2 separate regions of the Homo sapiens genome follow, and region 2 is linked to region 1. The links come from fine-mapping of genetic effects on gene expression. Tissue or cell type: whole blood. Region 1 holds a variant in brackets; the other region holds the start of a gene. All regions are shown on one strand. Distances are between the middles of the regions. Region 1 has its middle 24 kb from the start of RETREG1. Region 2 holds the start of RETREG1 (reticulophagy regulator 1).

What was found.
Region 2: RETREG1 starts here. The variant in region 1 is fine-mapped to the expression of RETREG1 in whole blood (TOPMed, PIP 0.93).

What each region holds. Positions count from the first base shown.
Region 1 is chr5:16,638,141-16,643,514 of GRCh38, forward strand. No RefSeq gene overlaps it. Among named protein-coding and RNA genes, the nearest start is that of RETREG1, 24 kb to the left of the region's middle. The variant A/G (reference allele first, on the strand shown) is at 2,768.
Region 2 is chr5:16,614,574-16,619,947 of GRCh38, forward strand. It overlaps RETREG1 (reticulophagy regulator 1), which reads right to left and starts at 2,424. Exons shown (of 9, transcript NM_001034850.3): 1 at 2,079-2,424. The coding sequence starts at 2,398. It overlaps RETREG1-AS1 (RETREG1 antisense RNA 1), which reads left to right and starts at 1,353. Exons shown (of 4, transcript NR_109946.1): 1 at 1,353-1,913. RefSeq lists a silencer at 2,178-2,667.

The DNA.
Region 1 (5,374 bases):
GACAGGGACATTTAAGTCTGCAGAGGATTCTGCTGCCTTTTGTTTGGCTATACCCTGCCCCCAGAAGTGGATCCTACAGAGGCAGGCAGGCCTCCTTGAGCTATGGTGGGCTCCACCCAGTTCGAGCTTCATGGCCACTTTGTTTACCTACTCAAGCCTGGGCAATGGCGGGCGCCCCTCCGCCAGTCTCGCTGCCACCTTGCAGTTTGATCTCAGACTGCTGTGCTAGCAATGAGCAAGGCTCTGTGGGCGTAGGACCCTCCGAGCCATGCGCAGGATATAATCTCCTGGTGTGCCGTTTGCTAAGACTGTTGGAAAAGCGCTGTATTAGGGTGGGAGTGACCTGATTTTCCAGGTGCTGTCACCCCTTTCTTTGACTAGGAAAGGGAATTCCCTGACCCCTTGAGCTTTCCGGGTGAGGCGATGTCTTGCCCTGCTTCGGCTCACATGCGGTGTGCTGCACCCACTGTCCTGCACCCACTTTCTGACACTCCCCAGTGAGATGAACCCAGTAACTCAGTTGGAAATGCAGAAATCACCCGTCTTCTGCGTTGCTCGCACTGGGAGCTGTAGACTGGAGGTGTTCCTATTTGGCCACCTTGGCTCCACCCTCAGGGAAGTGACTTTTAAGCAGACACTTAAATGAAGTAAGGCAGCCAGTAATGTGAAATTCTGCAGGCAAGCCAATGCTAGACAGTGAACAGCAGGGGTGAGGATTGTGAAGCCAGAACCAGCTTGAAATGCTCAAGAAACAAGAAGAGCAGAGGACACCAGGGCTGGGGATGGAAAAGCGATGGGGATGAGGTTGGAGAGGTGGCAGAGTGGACCACAGTGCAGGACTTCGCAGACCATGGAAGGAGACTCAATTTTATTCTAAATAGTGATGAGAAACCAATGAAAGATTTTGTGCAAGAAGATACTTGATCCAATTTTCATCTTTATTTATCTTTTTGAGGCAGTCTGACTCTGTCACCAAGCTAGTGTGCAGTGCTGCAATCTCGGTTCACTGCAACCTCTGCCTCCCGGGTTCAAGCGATTCTCCTGCCTCAGTCTGCCAAGTAGCTGGGATTACAGGGGCATGCCACCACACCTGGCTAATTTTTTGCATTTTTAACAGAGAAGGGGTTTCACCGTGTTTGCCAGGCTGGTCTTGAACTCCTGACTTCAAGTGATCCACCTTCCTGAACCTCCCAGAGTGCTGGGATTACAGGCATGAGCCAGCACGCCTGGCCAATTTTCATCTTTAAAAGATGGTTCTGATTACCGATGACGCAACATGCATGGAGGCTGGGAGATCTGGTAGGGGCTACTGTAGTAGTCACAGAAAGAGAGAATGGTAGTGGTGGAGGTGCTAAGAAATGGTTGAATTTGGAAGACCAGGGGAGGTAGAAACAGTACATGTTCATGGACTAGATGTGGAATGTCAGGGACACAGAGGAGTCAAGAATGATGCCTGACAACTGAGCAAGATAGGAAATAAGGGGGAGAGAAAATCAGGCATTCTTTTCTGGACGTGCTATATTTCACCTGCCTAATACACATGCAAGTGGAGAAACCAAGTAGAAGATCAAATAGGAAGACCTTAAGCTCAAGGGAGAGAAAGTCAGCATCTACATGGCATGAAGGCCATGAGAATATGTAGGATAAATTGGAAGATGTTGTAGAAGATGCAAATGTTCTCTGCTAACCATTGGATTTTCACAGTGCAATAAGTGACAAATAGAAGGAATGGCTGCAGGGAGCTTAGAGAGGAGTTTTGAGAAAGTGGTCTTGGGTCAGGAAACAAGAGACTGAATTCATTAGGGAAGGGTGGCAGGATGGATGTGAAGGGGCTGCCAGCTTCTGAAGACTGTGATAAAGTGAGAGCTATCGTGGTTATGTTTCTCCAGCAATATTCAGCTGCTCAAATACAGGGCATTAGTCAGGGGTCCTCAGAGAAACAGATCCAATAAGATATATATAACCAGAAAGAAACGGATTATAAGGCATTGGCTCATGTGATTATGGAGGTTGATTATGGATACTTCATTAAGTCCCACAAGCTTCTGTCTGCAAGCTGGAGACCCAAGAAAGCTTGTGATATAATTCCAAGGCCTGAAAGCCAGAGAGCCAATGGTGTAGATTCCATTCTGGGTCAGAAGGCCTGAGAACCAGGTGCTCCAAGGACAGGAGAAGATCAATAAGGCAGCTCCAGTAATCAGCAGAGAGTGGACTCAACCTCCCTTTGCTAATAGATTGGGTAATGCCCACCCACAAGGGCTTTACTCAGTTCACCAATTCAAATGCTAATCTCTTCTGGATACACCCTCAGAGACCACACAGAAATAATGTCTGAGCAGTTATCTGGGCATCCCATGGCTCAGTCATGTTGACACATAAAATTAACCATCAAATATAGACTTAGAGAGTTGGATTTAGCTGTGGGTGGGATTTTTGAAGACAAATGTAGGGAGGGGAGGGATGAGGAGGGAGCTGAGGGTATATACAAATGAAATTATACTTATGGATGAGAGATTCTAGACTGTGGAAGGAGGGAGCAGTGGACATTGAAGAAAGTGGCCTCACTGGTTTGGAAGTCATCATGGGCTAGCATTGTTGGAGAAGTGTCACTAGAGGGACTGTGCTGAGAAAAAGTGGAAATGAGGCTGGGCGCGGTGGCTCACGCCTGTAATCCCAGCATTTTGGGAGGCCAAGGCAGGCAGATCACGAGGTCGGGAGATCGAGACCATCCTGGCTAACACAGTGAAACCCCGTCTCTACTAAAAAT[A/G]CAAAAAATTAACCAGGCATGGTGGCAGGCACCTGTAGTCCCAGCTACTCAGGAGGCTGAGGCAGAAGAATGGCGTGAACCTGGAAGGCAGAGCTTGCAGTGAACCGAGATTGAGCCACTGCATTCCAGCCTGGGCGACAGAGTGAGACTGTCTCGAAAAAAAAGAAGAAAAGAAAAAGAAAAAGTGAAATGAAATAGTTTGGGAGCAGCAGGCCAGAGTTTGGTGGGGAAGATTACTAGGAGTAAGGAGGTCAAAGGACCAAGAAGCCAGGGCCGCTGGATGGACTGTCTGTGAGAGGGAAGTCTCCAGAACAGTTGGGCAGAGAAAGACAGCCAAATACTTGTATGAGGAAGGGGTAAGGATGGTCTGTTCCAATAGCACTGCTTCAAACAATGTGAGGGTTTTCAGAAAAGAAGGAAGAGCAAGGGTCTGGAGGGGCTAAAAGAATAATCACCTCACCCCAGGCCCAGTGGCACAGAGCTGGGATGCAAACAACCCTCACTTGAGAAGGTTGCTGGGAATACACAGGTTTTCAGTTAGGGGTAGAAGGTCAGAGGAACTTAAGGGGTGGTGGTGATGGTTTTGCAGGTGACAGATCATTCGCTGCAGAGGGCACAGGCGAATGAGGAGAGAAGAGGATGCCTGCTGACTGTGATGAAAGGGAGGATAATCTTTCCTGACCCTTTTCAAGCACAAATGGAATCAGCAAAGCTCACACGAACAGTTATGAGTTACTCACATGAAGCCAAGTTTTGCTTCCTACCAGATTCTTGCCATGTTTTGAATTACTGAGTTCGCCAAATAAGAACCATGTGAAAATTAGTTATTATAGGTGATATCATTTATTACACTTTAATTATGTAACGTCTTTGAAGAAATAAACATATCCTACAGGTTTCATCTATCTTCAGACATCAAAGTTATACATTCTAATTAAAGTTCATTAGAAATTATTTTTAAAAAATGGGATTCCAAGCAAGAATGTATGTTAATTCACATGTAACATCCACTCAGGCCAAGGTATTCTGACCTAGCAATGATATCACACCTGACACAGCAGTTGCAATGGCGACTGCTGCTTAATTGAGTTTGCCATGGACCATTGTCATCCTCCAGGATCTGTCTGGTTTTTGCAGGGCCCACGCTTGTGAATTAAATGGCAACATGATGGGGTCCATCACCCTGCATCTTCTGGTCCTTTAGGGATGACACTAATTTCTGCCATTCATTTTGGAATGCTGTATCGCTTTGGACGCACTGTCTATGGTTATAGAGGGGGGTTCATTTCAGAGGATTCCCCTTGGTCCTTTCTACGATGATAGTCTTACCCTAAGCCTAGGAACCAACAAATGAAGCATGTCTATTTCCATTATACATTTGGGGTCCAGAGACGTGACCACTTGGATGAGTCTGCAGACCCAGTGGACACACCATAAATAGGCAGGATCTGGGCCAGTCTCCATGTTTTAGCTACTCCAATATTCTCCGCTCTAACAGGGGCCCAAGATGCCCGTTTGTGTCTCTAGGTATTAATGTCTACTAAGACCTCGTGCAACAGTCACTCAAATGTTTGGGTAATCCTTGGTATTCAGTGACCCAAGTATATCCCTTTGGTAAAAGCCTGGGAGACCCAGGACCTCACCCTCTTGCTGTGTGGTTTTGCAAGGCTCTGCCTCCTAGGGACACAGTCTTTTCTTTAGTCAATGCACCTGGGGCCAAACAGTGGCTCAACCCCAGAAACTGGACAAGGGATTGTGACTTTTTATTGGTGACTTTCAGGTTCCTGATCACGCATCCTTGATTTCTCTTGGTTATACAGATTGAACAATCTCTTGCTGGCTGCCCATCTGTTTTGTTCCTAGGGATGCAGTAACTCAATAGAATTTTGAGTTAACTCCCTTGAGTGTTATTTTTGGCCAGGGGAAGAATTTTCTGAATTTGGAGAAGAGAGTATTTGTGAATATTTCTTGGCCAGAGAGGCAGACTGTGACAGTGACAGCTAACTGTCCACCAAAGCATCATTCTCTCCTTATGTACAATACAGTTGCTATGGAAAGGGCAGTTGTCCAGCTTGAAGCTGCATTTCCCAGCAGCCGCTGCATCCATTTCTCAGCATCCCTTGCATGTAAGTAATGCCACATGATTAGGTCTTGCTAGTGGATTGGGAGCAGAAGTGAAGTCACTTCCAGGCTGAAAAGGTTAAGAAGTGAATGTCCTTATTCAACAATTCAATGGACTGTTTGTTTCCTTTCTGCCAGCTCTGCCCAGCTCCACCCAGGGAGACCTTGGAAGCTAAATGTAGAAGGCAGATCCCCTGTCAATCTGGGCCCCTGAAGAGCCGCAGGGAGTAACTACCACTCTCCCAACATGATGTCGATATTGGACTGTCACAGAAGCAAAAAATCATCTTTCATTATATTAAGTGGTTGAAACATAGGAATTTGTTGGCTAAAGCAACTAGTTACCCTAATACATACTCTATAAATTCTATATCAAATATAAAAATTGTTTGTCTGAATAGATTTTTACCAATTTTTTTTTCTTTTTTTGAGACGGAATCTTGCTTTGTTGCCAGGCTGGAATGCAGTGGCACGATCTCAGCTCAC
Region 2 (5,374 bases), 24 kb before region 1:
AATTGTTAGAACCCTAAGGAGCTGCATGCAATATGGTGACAGCCATCAAAATTACAAGTGCACATGCCCTCTGACCCAGCAATTCCACTTCTGGGAAGTTCTCTAAAATACTTGCATATATGCAAAATGATGCATGTACAGGGTCATTAGCTATAATGCTGAAATAGCAAAAGCTTGGAAACATTACTGCCTCAGTAGGAGACAGGTTAAGTAATTTGAGACATCCTTACAATAGAATTCTGAAGCAGCTGAAAAAGAACAAGGAAGCAATCACCAAGAAATACTAGGAAAAGGAAGAGCTCATATGTTATTCCACAATTTGCATAGAATATGGTGTATTTGCTGAAATGTGCACTATCTGGAAAGAGACACAGGAAACTAGCAACATTGCTGGCCTCCGTGAGGAAACTGGGCGGCCAGGGACTGGGATGAGAAAGAGATTTTCAAAATGCTTACCCTTTTGTACCTTTAAACTTTTGCACTGTGAGACTGTATTAGTTTTTTAAAGAAATAAAATTTAAAATTAAGAAATAAAATGTTAAGGCCGGGCGCAGTAGCTCACGCTTGTAATCCCAGCACTTTGGGAGGCCGAGGCGGACGGATCACGAGGTCAGGAGATCGAGACCATCCTGGCTAACACGGTGAAACCCCGTCTCTACTAAAAAAAATACAAAAAACTGGCCAGGCGTGGTGGCGGGCGCCTGTAGTCCCAGCTACTCGGGAGGCTGAGGCAGGAGAATGGCGTGAACCCGGGAGGCAGAGCTTGCAGCGAGCCGAGATCGCGCCACTGCACTCCAGCCTGGGCGACAGAGTGAGACTCCATCTCAAAAAAAAAAAAAAAAGAAAGAAAGAAAGAAAAGAAAAAGAAATAAAATGTTAAAAACATCGTAAACATTAGTGAGACACAGCCCTAAGACTATTAGACTATTGCCCAATCTAGCATAAGACAATATGTCCTTCTTATTTGAGTGCTCGCATTCACTCCATAATAAGATAGATTTGGAATAAACTCTATTCCAAACACAGATACCTAAGAGATCCAAAGTTAATTCACTTTCAGGGACCTCCGACAAGATACAGCTAGTTTTAAGAGAAAACACCAGGACTAGCAGAGATCTGAGGAAAATATTCATCTTGCTCAAGTTAACCTAGAAAATGACAGGCTGTCTATTTTGTGCAATTTATTTATTTCTCAACTTTAAGGTTCAGAAATCTCTGTCCTGTAACAAGGTATCTGTTACCGGAGTCTGATTATTCTGCACTGTGTAGGTCATGTTTGTTATGAGGACACTTAGCAAACAAAGAAGGTTTTTCTCCGCCCTCAATAGCGTGGTAACGGATGACAGGACACCACTTTCAACGAAGGAGACAGACATTTCCCTGGCCTTTCTGAAGAGCGCTTTTTGGAGAGACAAACCTGTTGCTCAGGGGCTGAGCATTCCCGTGTGTTCTCCCTGTACTTCACCTAAAAATATGCCTGTTTTCCACACTGTGCACACCCGGGGGTGGGTGCTGGGCATACTCCACCTGCTTGTTTGCCTCCCGTTTTCTCATCAGGGAGTAAACACAGTAAACCTAACGCTCCAGGGGAAGGAAAAAACAAATCATTCAGGGCCCATCTCAGGTGACTGATGAATGCGGCACCGTTTTGAACGGGTACCTAATCTGGTCCAGATATGCCTGCTGGGGCTGCAAGAACCAAGACACGTTCAAGCACGTTTGCTCCGGCAAGCTTGGGCGAGCAGGTCAAGACCTCAGAGTTTTAGAAAGCAGGGGCGAAGTTTTCAAGCACGATGGGAACACCTGTAGGTGCAGGTGCCTGAGGGTCGGCCGACCACCTCGCATCTGAGGCTGGATCCGCACACGGAGAACGACAACTGCTCACAGGGACGTGCGTCCGGAGGAAAGTTGCGGTGAGTGTCTACCTGTTCGAGACAGGTGGCCGAGAAAGTGGGGCAGGGCTGACAATTCTTCCTCCGCAGTGTCCCGCGGGCTCCCCCTGCACTGGGTCCCCGGGGCCCCGGGCGCCCCAAGGTCACCTGCCCTCCTCAGCGCCCCCACCTTGCCCAAGCTCTCACCAGAACAGCAGGTTGGCAGCGACGAAGCCGAGCAGGCTCCGCAGCGGCCTCTTCCAGCTCAGCAGCTCGTCGGCGCGGCAGCCCAGCCACAGCACCGGCTCCCCGAGCAGCCAGGTTACCGCGGCCGCCGCCCGGCCCGCGGCCTCCTCCACCTGCAACCCCGCGCCCTCCGCCGCCCCAGCTTCCTGCGCTTCCTCCTCCTGCTGCTGCCGCTCTGCGGGGGATGCCTGGGGCGGTGGCGGCGACGGCGGCGCCTGCTCCTCGGCGGCAGGAGCCGGGCATCCCTCCTCGGCGTGCTCCGGAGGCGCCGGGCTCGCCATCTTCAGCTGTGCTTCCAGACAGGGACGGGGCCGGGCGCGCGCGCGGGCGCGCCTGGGTGTGGGTGCCGCCGAGGGCGGGGCGGCGGTGGCGGCAGGTCCCGGAGCGGGGCGCGCACCGCGGGGCACAGGCGGCTGGGGGCCTTGTGACGCCACAGGCCACGGAGGGGGAGCCGCCCGGGAAAGTGGGTGCGGCCGAGTTCGCGCAGGGGCGGGGCCGGGCGCCGGGAGCTGGGCGGTGTCCCCGGGGGGCTCTGGGTTCCTGGAGGGCCTCTCCGGGACTCGAGGAAAACGACCTTTTCCCTTGCAGCGGCGGGAGAGGGCGAAGTGGAGGACTGCTGCTCGGTTCCGTATCCAAAAGAGACCCAAGGCTCCAGGCAAAATAGATTGGACATTTTCACTTTCTCAAGCCAGGGCCACCGGTCGCCCAACCAGCAGCCACTGAGGGTGGTATCGGGGCGCCCCTTCCCCTGGCAGCGTATTTCAGCCCCCAGAGACATCCCCCACCTCGGCCATCCCCAGCGCCTTTGCAGGGACAGCAGCACAACCATAGCAGAGGTCCTGGGCATCCTGGAAATAACGTGCTGGTATAAATGTTGGATTGAGAAAGGAAGAAAAAACATTTGGGGTCAATTTGGGGCCCTCTCGTTTGACACGGGAGGAAACACAAGGCCGCAGCGTTGGGGGAAGCTGCTTCCTTTCTCTCTCTTCTTTCTCTCTGTCTCAGGTGCTTCCTTTCTCTTCTCTGTCTCTCTCTCTCTCTCTGCCTCTCCCTCTCTCTCCCCCGTCTCTCCCCCTATCTTCCCCTCTCTCCTCCTATCTCCCCCTCTCTCCCCCTCCTTGTGGCTAGGTGATCTGGCTCAGAAGTGCACGTTGGCCCGCGCGTGCGGGGAGCTGAGAAGCAAGAGATTGGAACTTTGCACGTGTCAAGCAAGGTTTGGCCTGCTTTGAAGACAGTAATTTCAGAGCCACTCCGGTCTCTGCGTCACAAGCGGGCATCAGGGCAGTGGTGGGGCGGCAGGGGATCCTGAGACCTCCCATGCCCTCTCTTTGGCCCCGGTGCTTCTGGGTGAGTGTGGGGAGAGAGGAAAATAGTTGTTTATGCTTTTCACCATTTGCATTTTTAAATTTTTGTCTTCTTTAATCTTCCTGGTCTTACTTTTACTCTAGAATGACAGGTCCTTCCCCCCCATACTAAGGGTTCTGTCTGCGGATGCATCAGGGCATCTCATATCCCTTTACTGGCAACCAGCCTGCCTGCACAGGATGGAAGGGAGGGCAATTAAATTCCCTGCGTCAAGGGAGTCTCTAGGGGAATGTTCTGTAACGCTCCTCTGGGTGGCCATTGTAAACCTCTGTGTATACACACGTGGAATCCATTGATCTGTACATTCACTGCAGGTGTCTGCACTTTACTGCTTGTATGTTGTACTTCAAAGGAGTTATATTCCCAGAGCCCAGGCAAAGGCTTACTGAGCACCTACCGAGTACACAAAGCATTGCTAAGCTCTGTGGATGCAGCTTCCACCCACAGGAAGCTCCCAGTCTGATGAGGGCCCAGTTACAATTGTGATATCTGCCACAGCGAAGAAGCCTTCGCTAAGTGCTAAGAGATTCCTTACTTAAACTGTGCATCCAAAATTAGGGGAGGAGTGGAGGGATCAGGTTTCAAGAGCGTTTTGTAATAAATGGCCTCTGCCCTAAATTGTAGGGCCCCCATTAGTGTGGGGATTGGGGACAGGGGCAATAACTGCTGTTGGGAATTCAACAGGAGAGGAGGCATGGGGTTGCAGGTGGAGACGCACAGTTCCTTAAGTAACTCACCAAAGGGAATAGTGGACATTGAATGGTCTCTAGTAACAGGAGGCTTGGTTTTTAACTAAAGGTGATACAGAACATCTGGCATTTCCGACTCCCCTTCTTAGGAGTATCCTGACAACCCGATGGAAAGTGGCCTGGGTGTCAAGGAAAAAGCAACGTGGAAACAATTCAGGTTTCTTCCATATAAGAGAGACAATCTTTTCCCAGGTGTGGGTCCTCCCTCTTGGCAGTAGCGGAGAAGTTTTTGAAAGATAAATGATGCTTTTATTGTGTCATTTGGCCTTTGTTTGGCGCTTGATACAGCCCAGGGTTTGCTATTCTAAAATCTGTCACTAGACAGATGTGTGCTGCAGCCAGTGTGGAGAACATGGGGCAGGAGAGAGGAAGAACCAGGTGTCCCCGTTCCCCAGACCAGTGCTGATGTGCTACCAGAAATGGGTTTGCAAGATTAATCACCTTCCTCCTGCTTCCCTTGAATTCTAATTATTGTTGTCAGGATCTGTTGAAGTAGTAAAAGCTGCTGGCAACCAAGACACATAAAAGCTAAGCTCCAGTTGCTGTGTGTGGTTTCCAACACTTATTTATTATCTCTGTTTAATAATAAACCTCCTTCCCCACAGCTATGTGTTGTAAAGTCTATCCTTTCTCTCTCTCTCAAAATTACTATGGAGAAAATGCTATGCAACCTGTTTTGCATAAAAGGCTGGGCTAATTAACCTTTCCTTTTCACCTCCGACCTCTAATACTTACAAACTGTATGACAGAAGTAGACACTGGCATAGACATACAAATGGTGCTGCTGGGTGGGATTTTGTTGTTGTTTTGTTGTTTGTCTAATGATCTTTGTGATGCTTGAGTAATTTATTCAGGGCTAAGATTACAGAAACATAATGCTAACAATGGTTGAAATCAACCTTGTCCCCTAGTTTTAAGAACACGCCACATTCTTGAACTCCTGCAAGTAATCTTACTAAGATTCTCTTCTGAAATTTTATTGCTATATATTAGGAACAGAGTGATTAACACTAGTGAGCTAGATGATTTGACAATATATATCTGAGAAAAGGAAACTGGAAACGTGTCTGAGAAAAAAAAAAGTTCTAGCTACTGAATGAGAGTTTAGAAAATGAGACAGCTCCAGTAAAGAAAGTCCAAATG